6 separate regions of the Homo sapiens genome follow, and all the other regions are reported to be linked to region 1. The links are microRNA targets in miRTarBase. Many come from high-throughput screens and were not tested one by one. Region 1 holds a microRNA gene; each other region holds the end of a gene's coding sequence.
What was found. The annotated mature microRNA hsa-miR-1913 reads UCUGCCCCCUCCGCUGCUGCCA and lies in region 1 at 2,374-2,395, opposite strand. An mRNA with a match to its seed (bases 2 to 7 or 8) in the 3' UTR can be bound and repressed. Matches are read on the target gene's strand: a 7mer-m8 pairs with bases 2 to 8, a 7mer-A1 pairs with bases 2 to 7 and ends in A, and an 8mer does both.

Region 2: the mRNA of G3BP2 is a reported target of hsa-miR-1913. Seed matches in the 3' UTR shown: 7mer-m8 at 1,635-1,641.
Region 3: miRTarBase lists CCNQ as a target of hsa-miR-1913. The part of its 3' UTR that is shown has no 7-base or 8-base seed match.
Region 4: the mRNA of SETD1A is a reported target of hsa-miR-1913. Seed matches in the 3' UTR shown: 7mer-m8 at 1,223-1,229 and 7mer-m8 at 1,610-1,616.
Region 5: miRTarBase lists VDAC2 as a target of hsa-miR-1913. The part of its 3' UTR that is shown has no 7-base or 8-base seed match.
Region 6: miRTarBase lists SAPCD2 as a target of hsa-miR-1913. Seed matches in the 3' UTR shown: 7mer-m8 at 2,426-2,432 and 8mer at 1,222-1,229.

What each region holds. Positions count from the first base shown.
Region 1 is chr6:166,506,991-166,510,989 of GRCh38, forward strand. MIR1913 (microRNA 1913) reads right to left here and starts at 2,443; the gene lies at 2,364-2,443. It overlaps RPS6KA2 (ribosomal protein S6 kinase A2), which reads right to left. Exons shown (of 21, transcript NM_021135.6): 4 at 3,287-3,367; 5 at 1,213-1,292. RefSeq lists enhancers at 1-86, 87-1,026.
Region 2 is chr4:75,642,422-75,646,420 of GRCh38, forward strand. It overlaps G3BP2 (G3BP stress granule assembly factor 2), which reads right to left. Exons shown (of 12, transcript NM_203505.3): 11 at 3,917-3,999; 12 at 365-3,281. The coding sequence ends at 3,009. Among named protein-coding and RNA genes, the nearest start is that of CDKL2, 14 kb to the left of the region's middle.
Region 3 is chrX:153,585,047-153,589,045 of GRCh38, forward strand. CCNQ (cyclin Q) reads right to left here. Exons shown (of 5, transcript NM_152274.5): 5 at 2,879-3,408. The coding sequence ends at 3,319. Among named protein-coding and RNA genes, the nearest start is that of CCNQ, 12 kb to the right of the region's middle.
Region 4 is chr16:30,982,805-30,986,632 of GRCh38, forward strand. SETD1A (SET domain containing 1A, histone lysine methyltransferase) reads left to right here. Exons shown (of 19, transcript NM_014712.3): 18 at 831-968; 19 at 1,046-1,860. The coding sequence ends at 1,219. HSD3B7 (hydroxy-delta-5-steroid dehydrogenase, 3 beta- and steroid delta-isomerase 7) reads left to right here and starts at 2,403. Exons shown (of 7, transcript NM_025193.4): 1 at 2,403-2,493; 2 at 2,849-3,020; 3 at 3,245-3,400; 4 at 3,619-3,727; 5 at 3,801-3,828. The coding sequence starts at 2,855. RefSeq lists an enhancer at 1,872-2,384.
Region 5 is chr10:75,230,461-75,233,460 of GRCh38, forward strand. VDAC2 (voltage dependent anion channel 2) reads left to right here. Exons shown (of 10, transcript NM_001391963.1): 10 at 438-988. The coding sequence ends at 529. Among named protein-coding and RNA genes, the nearest start is that of COMTD1, 4.0 kb to the right of the region's middle.
Region 6 is chr9:137,061,291-137,065,289 of GRCh38, forward strand. SAPCD2 (suppressor APC domain containing 2) reads right to left here. Exons shown (of 6, transcript NM_178448.4): 4 at 3,788-3,895; 5 at 3,573-3,689; 6 at 837-3,497. The coding sequence ends at 3,369. Among named protein-coding and RNA genes, the nearest start is that of SAPCD2, 7.3 kb to the right of the region's middle. RefSeq lists an enhancer at 2,519-3,296.

The DNA of each region.
Region 1 (3,999 bases):
AGTTGCATCCTGGAGGGTTCCTACCTAAGGCACTGGAGGTCAAGGAGAAGCCCTGGGGTGTGCAGTAGCGGCTGTGAGACAAAGGTGGCGTGCGAAGACCACACCCGATGCTCCCGAACAGCCCCAATGTTCAGCCGGCTTAGCAGTACCTCCCTCTTCCCTCCCTCTTCCCAGGATGGAAAGTGAGACCCTGTGAGAGTCTTTCCCAGCCGCTCCTACCCACCGACCTGCGCCTTCCATCTGCGCTAGCTGGGAGGTCAACAGCGTGACTTATGGTCCCAGAGCTGCAGGGGCGCTGCCAGGGCCACCTGGGACGATTGCTAGGGCCACTTGTGCAGCTTCCTTAGAACCAGGCAGCAATGCACACAGCACACCCAACACACACACACACACACACACCCACCCCACATCACACATAGCACACACCACACATACCACATACAGCACACACACACAACTCATACATACACACACCCTACATAGGCACACAGGATGTCAAACACACAGACACCCCACACCACACAAAGCACATACCACACATACCACATATAGCACACACACACCCACACACAAACACACCCCACACATACACACACCCTGCATATGCACACATGCACAAAGCACACCACACACCCCACACATAGCACACACCACGCACACCAACCCCACACATGCACACAGCATGCCAAACACACCCCCACATATACACATAGCACACACACCATCACACACAGCACACATCACATACACCACAAATCACACGCCTGACATATACACACAGCACACATCACACACATACCACACACTTATCACATGACACATGCACACCCCACATGCACACACACTCACATTCCCACACACCATGCACACACAACCCCAAACACCACGCACACCCCCCCACACACGCACTCAAACACATACACACCCCACACATCACGCACATGCACTCACACAGCCCCCATGCAAACCCCACACATGCACATGCAGTCTCGCAACCCCCCACCACACATCATGCACACTTGCACACACTCACACATGTACACCTCTCCCACACACGCACTCTTGCACACACTCACACATGCACACACCCCCACACACACACACGCACTCTCGCACGTGCTCACGTCCTCTCAATGCTCTCCACCCCTCCTCCCCTCGAGTCCCAGACAGAAGCTCCTGCCCGCCCTCCTGTGTGATGTGGCGGCTGCTCACCTCTTTGGAGAGCCGGGTGAAGAGGTCCCCTCCCCGCAGGAAGTCCAGGATCAGGTAGAGCTTTCCTTCCGTCTGAAAGGCTGTGGGGGACAGAGACCCGCATTTTGACAGCTTGTCGAATGTCCTGTGGCAACATCGCTCTCTGGCTTCTCCCTGCTCACGGTGCTGCTTACTCCGGGAGGCTGAGTCACTTGAGAAACGGCAGGACCCCGGCTGGTGACCAGCTCAGAGGGGCAGCACCCGGCAGAGGGGGTCTGACACTGTGAGCGCTGCCCCTCTCTCACTGTCGTTAGGGGGCCTTGAGATTTCTTTCATCTTTCTTTCCTCTCCCCTCCCTCCCTTTTTTAATCACAAAGGAATTGAAAGATACACGGGGAGAAAGATGTGAATATTTAAGCTGGTATCGTTGCTGGCTTTTGTCGTAATGCATTAGTGAGCAGCCTGAAGATGGCTCTGGTGGGTTTGGAGGACATGTCCTTTCCGTCCTATGGAAGTGCCTTCTTCTTACAGAACTCCACTCTGGTACCAGGGAGCCCCCCGCTTGCCTTCCTCTCTTGAGGCAGTTCTGGTGATAGGTCAGCCCAGTTATTTGAACATCAACAATGGGGCTCACGTCCTAGGTCTGGTCACTGTGAGCTATAACTGCAGACTTTCTGTTTCAGGCCACAGGCAGGCTACACAGCTCCTGCCCACACTCAGCAAGGGCCTGCCTCTGTTGAGCGGGCGCATGAGCACGGGAGGGTCTAGAGAAGCCCGTCACCATCGCTGCTGTGACGATGGTTGCTGCAGTGGCACTGGTGAGGCACCGCGTGGCATCTTTTTTATCTACAAAGGAAGTGTGGCTGGAAGGGATCCCAATATCCCTGCATACTAGAAAACGTTTTATTTTCTAAAAGTAAATGCTAGAAGCATCATAAATGTGGGGGTTTTAGAAACATAGCCCCCAGCTAGAAAGCCCTCTGCCAGGACTGTGTAAACTGAGTGTGCATTAAATGCTCCATCCTGGGCTTGGCAGGCAGGTGGAGGTGCTGGGTCACCACTGAGGTGATGTGGAGGTCTGTTTAAAGCTCTTTGTAGGACACCCAGTTCTCAATTTCTTCAGAAAAGCACCCTAGCAAGTAATGTAAATGACACGTGGGATGGGACTTGACACCAGCCACTTGGCAGCAGCGGAGGGGGCAGAGTTTTGGAAAGCCAGCCTCTGCAGCCTCCTCTGCCGGGAGGTAGAGGTTTGCAACTGCGCTGCCCACGGCCGAGAAGGAACAGCAGGGTGTGCCCAGCTTCTGCAGGCCTCCTTCATCCTGTCCTCAGATTCACGCAAATCTCACTAACACCTCCCCGACACACCACCTTGCCCTTTGCAACCAAGAACAAACTATTAGTTTTGTTGCTGTTCCCTTCTGTACTTTGCTCATCTGGATTATTAGGTGGGAAAGTTTAATGTAATAAGCCATGAATCTGCAGCCACCATCTCATCACATCTTTTTTAAATTTGAAGATTTCACTTACTGCTTCTCTGTTGGGATAAAAAGGCAGACAGCAAATGAAGAGAAGTTGTGTGGCAAAGCAGCTATGTGGCCTTTGGTTAATTATTTGAGCCTCAGAACATGAAAATAATAAGCTACCTTGAATAGAAGTTTTGAGGGTTCAACGAACTACTATCTTTAAACATGATATTCATTTGAAATGAGGTGTTACCATTTCTGGTTTAAAGAAATTATTGGGTCATAGAGTATTTTATTCTAAAACAACACAAAAATAAGTCATAGATTCACCCCAATCTAGGTTAAGATCTTCTAAATTATCAATGGTATGGTAATAATTTAATAATGGATACCCCATCTAAAATTAGATCTTTGAGATGAAAACAGGGCTTCTTGCTCTTTCAAAGAAAATAAATACAGAAGAGATTAAGTGATCAGGATAGAAGGCACCTTCCTCCCCAGGCAGGGCAGGACTCTATGGTATAGGAAAGATTTTCTTCTTTCTGATCTGTTATTTCTTTTTCAATTTTCTTTGATCTGGAGAAGGTTGCCCTGGGTCCTCTTTAAAGTGTCATTTTGACTCTACTTACCATAATGAAGCTTCACAATGAAGGGGTGATTCACTTCTGCCAAGATGTCTCTCTCCATCTTCGATCTCACTCGGTCCCGAACTGCAAAGTAAAAAGATAAAGGCTTTCATGAGGCAGGAAATAAGAGTTCTGAGGAACACTGAACATGAAATACTAGATATAATTCCCGCCAACTTTTCATTAAAAAATTTCAAACATATACAAAACTTGAAAAAGTTGTACAATAATCCTAGATTTAACAACTGCTTACGTTTTAATACATTTGCTTTCTCTCTCTCATATATATATATATATATATATATATATATATATATATATATATATATATATATATGCATCTCTAGCTCTCCAAAAAATTGTAGGCAGCACGACATGTTACTCTGAGGTGCATGTGCAGGTGTCTCCTAAGAATAAAGACAGTCTCTTAGCATAACTTTAACACCTACTGTGCCACATAGGAAAGCCAACAATCACTCCATGAAACATCTAACATCCAATCTATATTCAGTCCTCCCCTCCACGTCGTTTTCCCGACCTAGGATCCAGTTCAATTATATTGGTTGTTAAATGTCTTTGTTTTGCTCCTAGAAGACAATGGTCCCATACCTATTTCCCTCGCCCTGTATTTTTTCGTGGACTTTTTGGGAAGTCCAGGTCAGTTTTCGTCTGTAGAATGTTCCACATTCTGGGTTCGTCTGATGGTTGCTCATTTG
Region 2 (3,999 bases), not on the chromosome of region 1:
CCATTAACTTCAGGTAACCTCAATCTTCTCATCCCTTCCCTTCTCCTTTCTTGTGAGATGCAAGGCAGAAAATACTTTAGAAAATCCAAGGTTGTAATCTGCTTTAGATCATTCTCATCATTCTTACTACTTATTATTCTAACATTCAACCTGTATACCAGCAGTCTAACTGGACGGAATAGATCTCTTACAATGGTCAAGTGTTACTTAAATGTTTTACTTTTTTTATACGTATCAAATTTCACAAATAAATTGTTTTAAAACCCAACTGCTTATTATTCCCACTTAGTTTGTATGAAATGCAACTGGGAGAAAACATTTGGGAACAATAAAAACTATAGATTAAATTAGGGACATAGATAAATGCTGCAGACATCAGTAGTTTATTGTTTGTTTAGTCCAAACACATTCAATATGGAAACTCAAAGAATACTTTCCACCTGAAACAATTAAACTAGATTCTACTAGCATATAATGCTTAACACATTACAGCAATAAAGATGGTAATCCATTGTCTTCTATACCTACTAAAGCCAAGATGGTAAAGCCAATTTGGTTGCAATAGTGTCATAAGGATAGAATATTACCATCAAAAAATAAAACAAAATCAGCAAATAACAGTAATGGTAGATGAATATTTTTACTCTGTTTCACTGAAAAGAGGACAAAATGTTAAAACTCCACAGTACTGCAGGTGAACAATCACCATGTAAACTTCTCCATATGATGTTTTAATGTTTTATTCATGGTATGTAAAGACTGAAGCTGAATGGCTCTTTGCTCTACTTTTCTATTATTACACTTAACATTTGTCATTACTTTTGGTGCCAGAACAGTTTTCATGGATGGCAGGGCAATATCCTGAATTGGAAATTATATATATATATATATATATGGAAACAGAAATACAAGAAAATATGCTTGGGGGAAAAAAAACATTGACAATAAAACAACTGCTTCTTTAAAAGTAGTATTAATAAAGGCTTCAAAACTCCAAAGTAATTTTCTGGTAAGAATTTCAAGTACTATATCAGAAAGTATAAAACTGTTTCAAACAGAAAAAAAAAAAATCCTTAAGCCCCCCAAAAATGGAAACTATGAAAATCTGTGTCCCCAAAATATATGCAATAGTGCAAGACTTTCCCTCAAACATGGAAGACCTCATTCAAAGGGGGAAAAAGGGACAGATTTTACTCATATTGCCCAGTACATGAAAAACAAAATACATGCATCATTTGCTAGTTTACTAAATAGCAAACAGTTGCATAATTCAGAACCAATTTGCTACTATGTCAAGTGCATATCTTGTCTGTTTTACAAAGATAGAATGGAGAAGTCTTCCATGCTAACGAGCAGCTTTAAGTGGTCACACTTATTTACCCCACTCCTGCCTGAAACATCAGAAACTGGTATGTACTGACTGCTCCAAGCATAAAATTGGATAAGCTTTGCCATACTTGTGGTTTACTGGAACTTGCTATAAAGACAGACAATAATCCAGCAGCTACAAACTTTGCTCACAGAATTGTTTAAAGATTCATGTAAAAATAAAAGATGTCGTCCCAGACTTAAATTCAGGAGCCACTCGGGTGCTGACATCAGTTCAAGAATTGTGCAAAATGAATGACAGTTCCCTGCCCCCCAAATAGAAAATGCAAACACTTAAAGAGCTGCTGTTCTTTTCTCCGAAAATTGCAGTATCCTCACTTCAGGCTTACTTGCCATTTATAGAATCTGACTGCTTTTAAAATGTCACTAAAAATGTACGTCAAGTTGACTGACTTTTCCAAGCCCTGAAGTGATATGTTTCAACGTCCACATTCAGGCTAAGAGAAAAGTCAACTAGAGGCTTACTCAAATAACTGACTTCCTCCTTCCCTCTCCCCACAAACACACAGGACTCCCTCCCTCCCACAGAGAACACAAAGTTGTTAACTGAAGAACAAGATAAATAATATGCTAGTCCATTTTACTGATTTTAAAGATACTGCAATTTTTATACATTTCGATGATTTTTCAACATTTTGCAGCTGTTTGGCTTTGCAGCACAGCAATTCATACACTATACTGTACAAAATTACCAGCAAGACTGGAATGATGTATTAATAGAAGGCACCATCATGCTTATTACATTACCAGAGAACAAAAATACAGTAAAGACAATTTTCACTGTACACAGCTTAAAGAAAGGAAAAAAGGGGAGGAGGAGTGTGTTGAGCAGCCAGCCATCCCTGTACTGAAGAGGGGCAGGTAGAAAAATCTTAGATATGGAGCTACTAAATCTGGTCTAATAGTCAAGACCATCGCATTTGAAGTTCTAATTTTTATTATTTAGTTCATAACTAAAATGATTTCCTTCTGGAATATACTTGTAGTCTTGTTAAGGTTTATGTGTACACACGCTGGTCACAGCAAGCAGATAAAATGCCCTCATCATTTCACAAACTATTTTCTACTGGAAAAGAAGATGAGATTTTTTCCCTGTTGCCTCCTGTTGCAGATGTCAATGTTAATGAGTTCAGAGTACCCATTAGTACATTTTGATGAGTGCATAACAAGTTTCTGTTGGTTTGTATTTTTGGGGGGAGCCAAGAAAAAAGGCAAGATTCTCCAATTGCACAAATTGCACTATTTGTGTTCCCAGCATTAACAGGCAGAAACAGTAACACTTAAACAAAATGTGCAGCAGAAGATTTTTTTTTTACTCAAAGGACCTGAATTCAGTGGGCATGTCCTTTTAAGTTCACTTTGTCGTAGATAGTTTAAGATATGGTCATTTCTCAGTCCTTAATTCTCCAAGTCTAGATTTATAAATTAACAATGTGAATCCTGTTGTGAAATTGGGGAAATAATGTCCACCTCAATTTAACTGATAACCAAAGATGCTTTTCACATCAAAGAAATGATCAAAAAGGCTGTGTCACATTCCAAAGCCAAAAAAAAAATTAACAAGAATGCAAACACGATGAATAATGTACCACTGCCAAGACTTTGCCAACAGTGGAGCTTCAGCGACGCTGTCCTGTGAAGCGGCCCTCCATTTGCCCGGTTCCTCTTCCAGAGCCAAGTTTCTGTGCCATGCCACCCCTTGGAGGAGGTCCTCTTCCATCACGATCACGCATCATTCCACCACCCACAATTCCACGTGGACCACCGGGACCTCGATCATTGCGCCTAATATCCCTGCGATCATCACCACCACCTCTGGTTTCTCGCTCTCTTGCAGCTCTTGTTTTTTTCTCTTCCACATTTAAACGTACTTCCCCTCGAAACATAATCGGCTTTATAAAAGAGAAGAAAAATATTTACATGGGCAGGTTAGACAGCAATAGAAATGATTACTCTGAACAGGTCAGTCAGATAAGCATAAGGAATAAAACACTTTTATCAGCCCCCCACCCCCCAGAGATAGGGTCTCAGCTGTCACCCAGGCTGGTGACAGCCAGTGGCACAAGCATGGCTCACTGCAGCCTTGACATCCTGGGCTCAAGTGATACTCCCACCTCAGCCTCCTGAGTAGCTGGGATTATAGGTGTCTACCACCATGGCCGGCTATTTTTCTTTTTTTGTAGAGACAATGTCTCACTGTTGCCCAGGCTGGTCTTGAACTCTCCTGGGCTCAAGCAATCCTTCTGCCTTAACTTCCCAAAGTGCTGGGATTACAAGTGTGAGCCACTATACCCAGCCAAAATTCTTAACATGCAATCTTGCAATCTTTCCCACCTTCTTCAGCAAAGCAAGTAACAAAATTTAAAATGATCTGCAAACTAACAAATCTTTATTCTTTGCATAAATACCATTTAATAACTATTTTTAGCTTTATTATTAAAAGATTTTCTATGGTTTTTAAATACCCCAAATTAATATATACAACAGAAATAATAAAGTCTTGAATTATGCCCTTTAAATCACTTACTTTTGCAATTAAGATTCTCTGAACTGGTTCAGAGTCATCAAAAACCACAAAACCAAAATTTGGAAGCTTTCCCCCAACACCCT
Region 3 (3,999 bases), not on the chromosome of region 1:
CCAAAATCAAGGCATGGGCAGGCCATGCTCCCTCTGAAGGCTCCAGGGCAGAATCTGCTCCAGGACCTCCTCTTAGCTTTGGGCATTGCCAGCCGTCCTCGGAATTCCTTGGCTTGTAGATGCTTCACTCCAACCTCTGCCTCTGTTGTCGTGTGGTTTTTCTCCCATGTCTGTCTCTCCCTGTGCGTGTGTCTGTCTGTGTCTCTCCTCCTTTTTCTTATACCTGAATCAAGCAGCTTTATTCTCACCCACAGCACAGTTCCATGCACGTGGGAGGCTCTGTTAGGTTCCAGAAGAAATATAGGCACGGAGGCTGTTTCTGGCTTGCAATTCTGTCACCTCAGAGTCCTTTCTTTCTGGAAGTTCACATGAGAAAATAGATGTTTACACCTTTGCTCTTAAGTGCTTACAGTGACATCTATAGTGTCCCCTGGACTTCCAGAGATGAACATGAAGCACATGATCCTATCTAGAATTGGCGGGCACTAATTTTCCCCACCACAATGATTGCCTGTTATTTCAAGCAACTACTATGTTCCTTATTGGTTTTACATTTTAACATACCGGGCCAGGCATGGTGGCTCACGCCTGTAATCCCAGCACTTTAGGAGGCCAAGGTTAGAGGATCGCTTGAGTCCAGGAGTTTGAGACCAGCCTGGGCAACATAGCAAGGCTTCATCTCTACCAAACATAAAAATAAAAAATTAGCCAGGCACGGTGGTGCACACCTGTAGTCCAAGCTACTCAGAAGGCTGAGGTGGGAGGATCGAATGAGCCCAGGAGGCCAAGGCTGTGGTGAGCCATGATTGCAAAAGAGAGAAAAGAAAAGAGAAAAGAGAAAAGAAGTGGGGAGGGAGGGAGGGAGGGAGGGAAGGAGAAAAGAAGAAAGGGAGGGAGGGAGGGAAGGAAGGAAGGGGAAAAGAAAAAAGAAAAGAAAAAGGGGTGGATGAATTAGCCCAAGATACACGGGTGATAGAACCAGCCTTCACAGCCAAGTGGTCTAACTCCAGAACCCACTCTTCGTTTCTTGGAATGTTAAAATGTATTTGAATGCTAAAATGTGTCTTGTCTTGTCTTTCCTGTGTCTTGTCTTTTGTCTTGTCTTGTCTTTCCTGTGTCTTGTCTTTTGTCTTGTCTTGTCTCGAACTGCTGAGCTCAAGCCATCCTCCTGCCTCGGCCTCCCAAAGTGCTGGGAATACAGGCATAAGCCACAGTGCCTGGCCTAATTTTTTTTTTTTTAATAGACAAGAGGTCTTCATATGTTGCCCAAGCTGGTCTTGAACTCTTGGGCTCAAATGATCCTCCCACTTCCGCTTCCCAAAGAGCTGGGATGACAGGCCTGAGCCACCATCCCCTGCCTATTTTTAAAATGTTTGAGGAATATCCATACTGTTTTCCATAGTGGCTATAGTATATCCCACCAGTAGTGTGTGAATGTTCCCTTTTCTCCACATCCTCACCAAAGCTTGTTTTCTTTTGTTTGATAGTAGCCATTCTAATTGAAGTGAGGTGATATCCTCGATGTGGTTTTGATTTGCATTTCCCTGATTCCTGACGTTGAGCAATTTTTTCACATACCTGTTGGCGACTTGTACGTCTTCTTTGGAGAAATGTCTGTTTAGGTCTATTGCCCATTTTTAAATTAGGTTGTTATTCTGTTGTCTAAATTCCTTATATATTCTGGATATTAACCCCTTGTCAGACGTAGAGTTTGTGAATATTTTCTTTTTTTAAAAAAAAAAAAAAGATAAGAGTCTCCGTCTGTCGCCCAGGCTGGAGTATGGTGGCGCAATCTCGGCTCACTGCAACCTCCGCCTCCCAGGTTCAAGCGATTCTCCTGCCTCAGCCTCCCAAGTAGCTGAGATTACAGGCATCCACCACCATGTCCGGCTAATTTTTGTATTTTTAGTAAAGACGGGGTTTTGCCATGTTGGCCAGGCTGGTCTACAAACTCCTGAACTCAGATGATCCACCCACTTCGGCCTCCCAAAGTGCTGGGATTACAGGTGTGAGCTACCACACCTGGCCATGAGGGCCATTTTTACCATATTAATTCTTCTGAGCCCTGGCCACCTTCTCTTCCTTCCTCTTTTCACTACCACGCTACACATTCTCATTCTGTTTCCCATCTCTCCCTCCACATAAGCAAGGAGTTTCACCTGGTTGCCAGAGCGCAGGCAAGGACTGGGCACACAGTAGCTGCTCAATAAATGTGGTTCTTTGACTGATTAGTCTTAAAAGGCTTACAACAGGTAAAGCAGGAGCCCACATTTAGGAGAAGTTAATCATCAAAACCCACAGGGGAGTTCTACGAAATGAAGGGCAGGTCAGCCAGGGCAAGCCTGCCCACCAGGGAAGCCTGTGACATCTGCTCAGATACTTCATTCTGAAGACACTGAACATAGTCGCTCTGTAAAGTCAAGCAAGACTCTGCCCTGACCTGCATCACCCCTGCCCCCACACCTGCAGGAGCCGGAGCCCACCCTCCTGTGTAAACCTACCAGTCCCCCGGCCCTACGCCACGTGCTGAACGTACGTCTAGCCTGAAAGGGGACCTAGAGAGCGCCTCCTGGACTGGTCTATTTCTTACCCACTGGCTTTTGAGCAAGGAGTCAGAGGGGTGCTGGGGGCCACAGCTCTGAGTTTCTCCAGCCTCCCCATCCAGACTGGCTACCTTGACATTTAAAAACGCATTACTTTTAGTTACGTTCGATCAGGACTCACTTTTCTGAATGCAAGTGATCCTCCCTAACCCCAGGCCTGCCGCCTGATGGCTGGGACACACTCTACCTGAGAGCACTCTGAGGGAACCAGTCTCTGAGGGCCCCTCACACCCCCATGTGCAGCATGCGCTGCAGAGCAAAGCCAAGGGTCCCTATTGACTTGTATCACCTTTTATTACACAAAATAGATTTCAGCCACGTTGCACATTCATTCTCCCTACAAATCTGGCTTTTAAGAAATCCGTAGGGATTCAGTCTCATCGATTTCATGACTTTCCTTTCATTGATGTCATGCCTGTATTGTAGTCAAAGTCCTCTCAAAGGACAAACGCAGATGTGGCTGCCTTGGGTCAGCTGCACACAGTACACTCCCGGCCTGCCCGCTGGAGGCGCGGCTCCCACCATCACCTGCACCGCGACTTCTAGGGACTGGCAAAGCGGCAGCATGCCATTGCCTTCTCCAGCCCTTCTCCAGCAGCACAACCAGTCCTCCCAGCTGGTCCTGTGGGGACCAGCCGTCATGGCGACGTGGTGACAATGTCCCCAGGCAGCCGACCATCCTGGGCTTCTCTTTGGGCAGGCCTGGGCCAGGACCTTAGGGGATCTCTGTGTCCATGGTATAAATCTGAATGAGATCAGACACAATATTATCAATGATTGGCTTGGTAAGGTCGTCATTAAACACCTAGAAAGAAGAAGGAAAACAGGTTCCAGTTAGACTCCCTCTATGTTAAACAAGGCACCTGTCACTAAGCAGAGAATCACATTTCATGGGCAGGGGAGGGGCACAGGGACTTGGCTATGTAGGAAGACAGTAGCTCTCCTGCAAAGCCAGTTTAATTCCAGCCCGTTGAGGCCAAACACTTTACAAGGCCGAGAACATTCCAGATGGAACAGGCCTTGGTGATCTTCTGACTCAGAGAGGAGGGGACCTGTCCAACGTCATACAGGGAATTGGTAACACAGCTGGGTCCAGAGCACAGGCTCCTGCCTCCTGCCCGGGACTCCCTCAGGTCCAGGGTCTCTGCGGACACTGGCAAGAGGAGAGGGTGGCAGTCCCTGTGCAGCCACAGGCAGGCTAAGTACCCGGACCCCACGCCTACCCTAACCCAGCCCCTGGGGAGCATGTGGACCCACTCCACAGTCCGGACCGCCACGTGCAGGAGCACTCGCAAGACGGCGAAGGACATCCTCGGGGCCCATGGCAGGAGGGTTGCAGCCCAGGGCCACGCCACAGGCTGGGGTCCACACCCTGTACCTTCCAAAGGCAGGTCTG
Region 4 (3,828 bases), not on the chromosome of region 1:
CAAGGTGGTTGGCTGGGCTCAGCAGTGAGAGGGTGAGGGGGACGGGAGGCCCTCTCTCGGTGCTGCTCTTAGCTGCTGGGAGTATGATGGGAGGGCCAGTGAGATGGGTGTGAGGAGGAAGAACAAATATATGGTCAAGATGAGCTCCAGTCTGGACATGTGGGGTTGCAATGCCCCAGGGACATCTAGGGGATGACGCCCAGCAGCTCCACTGAGGTGGCTTTTGGCTGGAAATGGAAGTTTGGGAGGAGTCCCCACCACATAGCTGGCGGCTGAGGCTCTGGAAGGGAGTGAGGTCACCCGAGGAGGGCGTGCAGAGGCTCCTCACTGTCTTCTGGGAAGTAAGGGTTGCTCCTCACACGGAGGTGCGGGGCCTGACATGGGCGGCCTGCCATTTGCATTAGCCGGTGGCAGCCAACAGGTGCCTGTTTTGGAGAGAGGTCCAGGGAGGAGAGATGAGCAGGGTGCCGTTGGTGACATGGCCAGTCATTTCAGGAGCTGCCCCAACCCCAGACTTGCCCCAGCAGTCCGGGACCCCACTGTGACCAGGCAGATGCTCGAAGGAGTCAGTGGCTCTCTTACCCAGTGCAGATTTCCCTGGAGTTCCCTGCGGGTGACTTAGAATGGCCACCAGAGGCTTAGGATGCTGCCCCAAAGAGGGAGGGCTCCTGGAAGCAGAGTCGAGAGAGTCAGTGCCGGGTTAGCGGGAGCTGGAGGCAGAGCTGCAGCTCCAGGCCTGGTGGGCGTGGACCTGGGGTGCTGGCTGGCAGGCGTGCTCAGGGGCAGGAAGTGGGGGACTCTTCCCTGACCATCGCATCTCACCCTGGCAGATGGTGGCCGACATGCGGGAGAAGCGCTACGTGCAGGAGGGCATTGGCAGCAGCTACCTGTTCCGGGTGGACCACGACACCATCATCGATGCCACCAAGTGTGGCAACCTGGCCAGATTCATCAACCACTGCTGCACGGTGCGCCAGGGGCCAGCCGGGGCAGGAGTTGGGGGTCGGTGGGGGTGGCCACGGCTCACACGCCCTTCCATCCGCAGCCTAACTGCTACGCCAAGGTCATCACCATCGAGTCCCAGAAGAAGATCGTGATCTACTCCAAGCAGCCCATTGGCGTGGACGAGGAGATCACCTACGACTACAAGTTCCCACTGGAAGACAACAAGATCCCGTGTCTGTGTGGCACAGAGAGCTGCCGGGGCTCCCTAAACTGAGGTGGGGCAGGATGGGTGCCCACACCCCTATTTATTCCCCCTGGTGCCCTGAGCTCCCAGCACCCCCCCAGCCTTAGTGGGCTCAGCAGGGCCCACATGCCCCCATCTCCAAGCGTGGGGTTGGGGGCCCCAAGCCCAGCGAGGGAGCCTCAGTCCCTGGAGGCAGCTTCTGCCTCTCCTGTCACCCCTGCCCACCACCCCCTGATTGTTTTTCTTTGCGGAGAAGAAGCTGTAAATGTTTTGTAGCAGCCAGCAGCTGTTTCCTGTGGAAACCTGGGGTGCCGGCCTGTACAGATTCTGTCCTGGGGGGCTACACAGTCCTCTTGCTTTGTGTTAATGGGGACTTCCCCTTACGCCCTGCGTGTACCCCTCCCCAGTTTAGGGGTCTCTGGGGCAGTGGCCATGTTCTCCCCCTGGGGGGGCTCTGCACCCCCAGTCCTGGGGACTCCGTGCCTGGAACCCTGCCTCATCTGTTCCTGCCAGACCCTGAGGGTCACCCTTCCACCCTGGTGTCACTCCCCGGCTCAGCCAGGCCAGGATGGCGGGGTGGGTCCCTTTTGCTGGGCTGGACTGTACATATGTTAATAGCGCAAACCCGACGCCACATTTTTATAATTGTGATTAAACTTTATTGTACAAAAGTGTTTGGTCGGTGTATTTGGGCAGGAGCGAGGGGTTGGGGGTAGAGGGCACGGAGGGTTGTGCAAGTTGAAGAGAGGGAAAAGTGGGTACCTGAAGTGTGGGGCAGGTAAAGGGGCCTTCAGGCAAGAGCCCAGACCTGCAGAGACAGTCCGAGACTGTCTCGGACCCCCTGACAGGCTGCAGCAGCCGCACCCGCACCAGGAATACCCCACCAGTGCCCGCCAGGGTGGTGCCAAGGTCAGGCCTCCCCTTCCTACAATCACAGCTGCAGCTGGACCTCCGGCCTCCTGGGAAGCCCAGCAGGAGGGAAGGCCTGAGGTCACACTGTGGGATGAGGTCACCGCTGGCTCCACCCACAGCCCCAGACCCCTTCAGCCCACTCTGCAAGTTCGAGCTTCATCCCCACCAAGTTCTCCGCTGGACCCAGATGCCAGTGGAGCACAGAGCGGCCGCCAGGGGGCGCCTTGGGGCAAGAGTGGTGGGGGTTGTGGCTGGGCGGGTCTCTGTTCCTGGAATGGGGCAGGAGGGAGAAGGAGGAGCCAGCGGAAGGACGGTGTGCGGGCCGGCCAGCCCTGGACGAAAGAAGAGGGCCCCTCCAGGCCAGTCTGGGCACCCTGGGATAGCGGCTGCAGGTAGGCAGAGGCGCTGCCAGTGCCCAGGTGGCCTTTCCCTCCATCCGGCCCTTCCCACCTTCCTATAACCTTCCCTCCACCTCCCTCAACTCCTGGCCTCCCCACCCTTTTACTGCCTTCAAATCTCTCTCCCTAAACCCTGACCCCTTCCTGCACCCCAAGCCCGCCCCTCTCTCCGTAACTCAGCCATCAGCAGGGGCAGACGGCAGGTGGCCTGGTTGCTGCAGCTCCCAGGATCAGCTCTGCCCTCCCCGCAAACGCCAGCCTCGTCACCGCTCCAGGGCACCTCCAGCAGTAACAGGTGGTTGCAGCAGGTGGCAGCCAGCCCCTGGATGAGCCAAGGTCTCTTCCCCAGCCAGGCATGGCCGACTCTGCACAGGCCCAGAAGCTGGTGTACCTGGTCACAGGGGGCTGTGGCTTCCTGGGAGAGCACGTGGTGCGAATGCTGCTGCAGCGGGAGCCCCGGCTCGGGGAGCTGCGGGTCTTTGACCAACACCTGGGTCCCTGGCTGGAGGAGCTGAAGACAGGTTCTTGTTGGGGGAGCTTGTGGTGGAGAGGGTGTGGACGCTTCCCCAACCCTTCCCAAGCTGGGATCCCCACCCCTGCAGTGGAACAGATGATGCTGGTTTCTGTCCACATGGATGGGTCGAGTGAGTCACATTGGGAACGTGACTCCAGGGTGGAAGATGAACCCAGCCTCTGGCCTCTGGCCCCAGCTCTGACATGGCCTGTGTCCTCCAACCCCGGCCAGGGCCTGTGAGGGTGACTGCCATCCAGGGGGACGTGACCCAGGCCCATGAGGTGGCAGCAGCTGTGGCCGGAGCCCATGTGGTCATCCACACGGCTGGGCTGGTAGACGTGTTTGGCAGGGCCAGTCCCAAGACCATCCATGAGGTCAACGTGCAGGGTGAGGAGCTCTGGACACTCCTGGCCATCTTGCCTGTTTGTTCCCCACTCTGTCTTTGGCCTTGACCTCCGGTGACTCCCCTGGGACAAGTTGTCCTATTGACAGCCCTGCCCCCGCCTCCCCTGACCTGTCATGGTTTTCCCTGGACCTGGGATGGGGAGGAGGAAGATGCAGAGAGGGAAGAAGCTGCAGCTTGGATACGCCTCCTCCTCTGCCAGGTACCCGGAACGTGATCGAGGCTTGTGTGCAGACCGGAACACGGTTCCTGGTCTACACCAGCAGCATGGAAGTTGTGGGGCCTAACACCAAAGGTCACCCCTTCTACAGGTGAGTGGCAGGCCCTCTTGTCCTCTAAGAGCCCATTTCCCTCAGCATTGAGTCTTCCTTCTCCTCCCACCAGGGGCAACGAAGACACCCCATACGAAGCA
Region 5 (3,000 bases), not on the chromosome of region 1:
TTTCTTTATAAGCACAATACCATTGTCGCATCTAAGAAAACTAACATTAATGTAATACCAAATACATATTCAGATTTACCCCCGTTCCCAAATGTGTCTTTATTGTAGGTTTTCCTTTCTAGGATCGAATTATGATTATGTCTTTAGTCTCTTTTCATCGGGATAGTATACTCAACATTATAGTATATTCTAGAACACTTTGAAGTTGTTATTAAAACATTTCTCTGTGACTTGGTGCCTTAGCTAGAATGGTAACCCAGTTCTTCTGGTGTCTCAGATACTTCCAAGCGCCCTCTGGTGGCCAGCACTAGTAGGTCAGCTGACAGGCTGAGGAAGTGACAGGCAGGCTCTGGGGATGACTGTGAAAGAAGGCCCAGACTGAGTGACGTGCCAGGTACATCACGGTTTTTTGTTTTTGTGTTTTTTTGTCTTAATAGGTGTGAAGCTTACACTCTCTGCTCTGGTAGATGGGAAGAGCATTAATGCTGGAGGCCACAAGGTTGGGCTCGCCCTGGAGTTGGAGGCTTAATCCAGCTGAAAGAAACCTTTGGGAATGGATATCAGAAGATTTGGCCTTAATATATTTCCATTGTGACCAGCAGCAGGCTTTTTTCCCCCAAGAAGATGATCAAAACAAAGGATGATCTCAACAAGAGCTGTATTTTAAGTATTTAGACAGTTCTTTGTTAGCTGGTTTCTAGTTGGTTATCTAGTTACCAATGCTGCAGTCCTGCAGTCACCTATACATTATTTAAATGTATTTAACTGTTAAATGCGCTACCCACCAATAATGAAATAGACCTTTATGAAAACTGTGCAATTGTGTGCATGTTTGTTTTTATGTTCCTTTAGAAAACATTGACTGTTACCATTGAATGAGATGGATCAGTGGATATTAAGATGAGGTTACAAATTTTGTTAAGTTCAGCCATTATTACTTTTGGTATCCCAGAACATGACAAATTATGAATAAAACAAGTATACATAATTAATGGCTCCAAGTATTTGCGGAGTTCCACGTTTGCCAGCTAGGATCAAATCCCCGTGGTAGCTAGCCAATACTTGATTTTTCCAGTGAGTATTTTGCTCTGTACCTAAATCTGTGCCACAGAATCTTCTGTGTCCCTAGATTCCACGAGCTTTTTAAGACTACAATAAGAGGATACATGCTTTTACACTTTTACATGCACAGTTTGTAAGTCTGTGCAGAATTGCCCTGCATCATTGAAAGGAAAAAGAGAAGGTGCTGAAAAGTTACACAAACACACCATACCCCTGTGAGCTACTGCTAGGAACATAAAGTAGGCCCTGGTTTGGTGAGATGGTGTTAAGCATACAGAAGAGGAGTAAGGTGTAGACAGTGAGGGTAACCTGAGGGACTGTGAGAGGTCATTACTCATTTCCTTCTAGGCAGACACACTGAAAGGTGGGTATAGGTAGGAGACCAGAGACAACCCCTTTAGGCTGCGTGGCATTGGCCTTCATCTGGGCATGAATGAGACATTAATAGGTGGTTCTGGCTGGAAAAGTAGGTAAGAGTACGTTTTCTGATGGGAGAAGATAATTGGATATGATTAAAGGTTGGAGAAGATTTGTTCAACAAATCTGTAATAGACCTGAAGAATGGTAGAACCTGAGTGATAAGAAATGGGTAAGAAAATGGAAGGACTTATCACCCAAGAAATGATACATGCTACAAACTTCCAGGTTGAGAAGAAGCTGGTGAGAGACCAGAGCTCAAGCAAGCTCTCCACACAGGAGGGTTGGGGGCATGAAGACCCCTCTGGTCCCACTATTCCTAGGGGACTGGCTTGAATGGCCCATGTGAATCATGGTTCTCTGGAAGGCCCTCTCCAGACAGACATGACTTAAGTGACAGAGGGTTAGAATTTGAGCCAGCTTGAGTCAGGTAAGAGGAGAAACATGAAAAGATGTCCATGCAGGCTAGGCCTGAAAGCAACTCCAGCAGTGTGAAGTAGACCCGCAGGCAACTAACCACTGCTGGTGGTCCTTCAAAGAGAAAAACCCTAGTCATGGGGACTGCTGCCCCTTAGCTAATGGGTGGCCCTTTATTGGGCAGTGGCTACAGTAATTTGGACTGAGGTGTGGCACGAGTGAGTTAACTGTTTTGTCAAGGATTTCCTTAGAGTAAATTGAACCTATTCACCCACATGCATCCTAATATGCTTTTATGAGTTAGAAAAGGGTAGGTTTCCAGCCGTGGTCTTGCGTAGTGTCCAAAATGCAAAGTTTGTCCCAGGAGCTGTGAGCTCGTGTGGCTTTTTTTTTTTTTTTTTTTTGAGACGGAGTCTCACTTCGTTGCTCAGGCTGGAGTGCAGTGGTGCGGTCTCGGCTCACTGCAACCTCCGTCTCCCGGGTTCAAGCAATTCTGCCTCAGCCTCCCGAGTAGCTGGGATTACAAGCGTGTATCACCACACCTGTCTAATTTCTGTATTTTTAGTAGCGACCGGATTTCACCATGTTGACCAGGCTGGTCTCGAACTCCTGACCTCAAATGATCCACCTGCCTCAGCCTCCCAAAGTGCTGGGATTACAGGCGTGAGCCACTGTGCCCAGCCTCATGTGGCTCTTTTAGCTCTGCTTCCATCAGTCTCCAGGGACACTTCCCACCACCGAGGCTTACCAGGTAGTGGCAAAAGCTGCTTGAATTCCAGGCTAATGCCACTTATGCCTGAGGCAGTGTCAGTGGAAAGAATTTGACCATCTGCCAGTGGAGATAAGATCTGTGAGGTTGGGGAGATTTAAATAAGCAGAGCACCTGGGTCGAAGGTGCTCCATGAGGCCTGGTTCCTTCTCCACCTCCCCTCATAGGCAGATGGTTCAGGAAAGCCTGAAGTTCTCTTCATCCTCTAGGGAGTGTAGTAACAACTGCTGTACCTATAGGCTTGTCTGCTTCACGCCTCCCTGGCCAGTGATCCCCCTCACTTAAGAATTTCAAGGAGACGGCAGGATACTCAAGTCAACCCCACGGCAGGATAC
Region 6 (3,999 bases), not on the chromosome of region 1:
GCTGAGGCAGGAGAATGGCGTGAACCCAGGAGGTGGAGCTTGCAGTGAGCCAAGATCGCGCCACTGCACTGCAGCCTGGGCGACAGAGCGAGACTCCATCTCAAAAAAAAAAAAAAATTCCAAAAGTCTGGGCTTTCTCGAATTCTCTCTTTTCTTTCTTTTATTTATTTTGAGACAGGGTCTTGCTCTGTCACTCAGGCTGGAGTGCAGTGGCACAATCATAGCTCATGGTAACCTCAAACTCCTGGGCTCAAGTGATCCTCCCACCTCAGCAGCCCCAGTAACTGGGAACACAGGCATGAGCCACCACATCTGGCTAATTTTTGTATTTTTGGTAGAGTCAGGGTTTTGCCGTATTGCCCAGGCTGACCTCAAACTCCTGGGCTGAAGCAACCCTCCCGCCTCTGCCTCACAAAAGGCTGGGATTACTGGTGTGAGCCACTGCACCCGACCGATACATGTTTATTTTATTAATATTATTTTTTTGAGACGGAGTCTCATTCTGTAGCCCAGGCTGGAGTGCAGTGGTGCCATCTCAGCTCACTGCAATCTCTGCCTCCTGGGTTCAAGCAATTCTCCTGCCTCAGCCTCCCGAGTAGCTGGGACTACAGGCGCCCGACACCACGCCTGGCTAATTTTTGTATTTTTAGTAGAGACGGGGTTTTACCATGTTGGCCAGGCTGGTCTCAAACTCCTGGCCTCGGGTGATCCACCCACCTCGGCCTCCCAAAGTGCTGGGACCACAAGCATGAGCCACTGCGCCCGGCCTAGTCTTCTTTATAGCATTAAGAGATCATGCTTTTCATGGAGTAAGGAACTATAAATACCACTCCTTGTTCATGTTTCCAGAAATCTCTTTTATTTCTTTAGATATATAAAACACTGTTACTTTATATTCTCTCTGATAATTCTAGTATCTGGGTCTAGAGTCAATCTGTTGCTTCTGCTGGGTCTCATAGTGTATTGTTTCCTTGTGGTGTTTATGAATTTTTAAACCTGGATCTCTCATTTTCTTTCTTTCTTTTTTTTTTTTGTAGAGATGGGGTCTCTCACTGCGTTGCCCAGGCTGCTCTGGAACTCCTGGCCTCAAGTGCTGGGATTCCAGGCGTGAACCACCACGCCCGGCTGAGATGTTCCTTTTCCTTGGAACTTGATCAACACAAAATCCTGAGGCCTGGTGTGGGTGTGTTCCTCTGGGGCAGATTCTCAACTGGGGACACTTCTGCCCCCAAGGACACATTTCAACATCCTGAGACATTTCCGGGTGTCATCACAGTGTGCACGCACGTGTATGTACCTGCACACGCTACTGGCACCTCGCGGATAGAGCCCAGGGACGCTGCTCACATCCTGCACGGAGACTGACCCGCCCAGCGTCCTAGGGCAGGCTCCAGGCAGGGTCTGCATGTGCCTCTGCCAGCCACCTAGACCCTGCCAGCCGGGGCCTTTAAATTCTCCCCTCGTGGTCTCCAGGGCCACTCACTAGCCTGATTTCAAGCTGTAAACTGGGAGGACCTATTTCTTTTCACCTTGCACGGAACACCAAGGCTGAAAGGCAGTTTTTCCGGAGGTGCCAGCCTGTCTCACATTTCCGCTTCAGCTGCGGGGTCCAGCTCTATGTGGGCGGTCTCCTGATGAAGTCACCCCGGGACAGACACTGTTCTGTCTCCTGCTTCCAGTCCAGTAAAGATGCCAGGATCCCCCAGGGCATGGCAGGCACCCTCAAAGGCAGACGTGGGGAGGCCCTGGTGGGCAGACCCCAGCCTGCTGACGGGGGGCTTCTCCCTGGCTGCCACTGGCCCACCCACTGCGCTGCAGTCCACCTGGTGCTGGGGCTGTGGGGCACAGGCCCTCAGGACCTGCACCCTTTCCTGCCCAGGAGGTCCAGGCCTGACATCCTTATGTCCCCTGGAAAGCCCACTCCCATCTTCAGGGTAGGAGGGCAGCTGCATGCTGGGCTGACTTGGGCCTGTCCTGGGACACCCCTGCAGACCAGGTGCAGCAGGGAATGTGGCTCTGTGGGGTTGCTGTGGGCAGGTTAGCATGGAGCTGGGCTCCGGAAGGGAGTTGCCACGCTGCCTGCCAGGGCCCCTCCTCTGAGACAGGTGCCTTGTGGGACAGTGTACCAAAGTGCCCTGGACACGAGGGGGCCCTGCGCCCCCCACGCACTGACCCCGCATCGGAGGCCCTGCGCCCCACACACACTGACCCCGCATCGGCATCGGGGGCCCTGCGCCCCCCACGCACTGACCCCGCATCGGGGGCCCTGGGCTGCAGAACCCATCGATGCTGTTGCCGTGCCCCTGGTTCTGGTGACACTGGGACCCTCCAGGTTGGGCTGAGCAGGGCCCCCCCACCAGTGCGTACTCCAGCACCAGCGGGAGTGGGCCTGGGCAGGGGCTGAGGGAGTGACACCCAAGGGGACCTGCCCCAGCCTCCTCCTGTACCCTGGGGGTTCTCGTTTTCCTTGGCTGAGGGAGGTGGCCTCTCCCAGCTGAAACCTGGGGACAGGCTGGGCGTGAGAGCAAAGGGGGGTGAGCAGGACCCCAGGCCTTGGAAATCCTGAGTCGGGGGAACAGGCTTTGCCTATGACGTGCCTGGGAGCTGTCTGGGGGCCCTCCTGGGGAGCCAGGCTCACAGGATGTTGTGTGGGACTCAACGTGGGGCAACGTCCCGGCCAAGAGGGGGAAGGCCATCACCCCAGGGTCTGTGGGAGGCACATGCAGGCCAAGCTCTCGCCCACCCGGCGTGCCGATCCGCTGCAGCCAGGGTCCCTCAGCCTTGGCCAGAACCTGAAGTCCGACCGCTATCCCTGGGGCTCCCCAGCCAGGCAGGCACCCCCCGCTTACAGGCCGTCCCCACCCCCTCCATCTACTTCCGTCCGTCCGAGCTACAGCCACCTCGTCCTGGTGCCCTGGTTGAGCGGGAAGCTGCCCTTGGACCCGCGTCGGAGCCGCCCCGCGCCCTCTGCTGCCCGTTGTTGGAAGTGCAGCCTGGCGTGGGCAGTGCCTTTCCCTGAAGATGGGACCCAGGGCGGCACCGCTGGAAACGGGGGGACGCTAACTCATGGAGGGGTACCCCACTGTCCACTGACAGCGGCAGTAGTAGCTGCGGACTATGCGGACTCAAGAGAGCCCCAGCCCATGTCAGCACCAGGAGCCAAAACGGAGTCAAGCGCTCGGTGCGGGGACCAGCCGGGGGCAGGCCTGGGGAGCCCATCTGGCAAGGGCGGCAGGAAGGCGCCCACTCCGGGACTGTGCCTGGGCCTGCCGGGGGTCTCCAGCCAGAGAGGGTGGGTGCGATGGGGCGCCCACCCTCGAAGGGCTGAGTGCCAGGCTGGCCCTGGGGGCCCACGCGGCCCACAAGGACTAGATGAAGGTGGAATCCAGAGGTCCCCCGTCCTGCTGGCTCAGGGCGCGGGCCTCAAACAGCTGCTTAATGAGCGCCGACTTCTCCTGCTCCAGCTGCGTGATGCGCTCACTCTTCTCGGTCACCTCCTGGGCAGGTGCACAGTTGGTCAAGGCCTGCGGGGCCTCACCCCCACCCCTGCACCCCTCCCGCGCCTGCCCTACCTGGGTGAGGAGTCGGTTCTGCTCCTTCAGCATGAGGATGGTCTGCTGCTGCCAGACCGGGGGTGAGGTGGACGTCAGGGCAGGGCAGGGGGGCCCGGAGGAGGACGGGGGCAGGGCCTGCGGGAGGGCAGGATTAGGCAGGCCTGGACGAGGGCGGGGAAGCACTAAACTGGCCTGGGCCCCAGCGTGGGTGTGGGGGTTTGGGGTACACTCACCCGGCTGGCACAGGCTGCAGCCAGCAGCTCCCCCAGGCACCGGGCCACCTCTTGTACCTTGGGCAGTAGCCGCCCCAGTGGGCGGGGGCTCCCTGCAGCCCCAAAGTCCTGGGAAGAAAGCAGAGGACAAGCGGTCAGAGAGGAGGTCCAGCCGGGGCCAGCAAGGTGCCTTGATAGGGGTTCCCACAGGTGGCTCTCCTGCCTCCTGATGC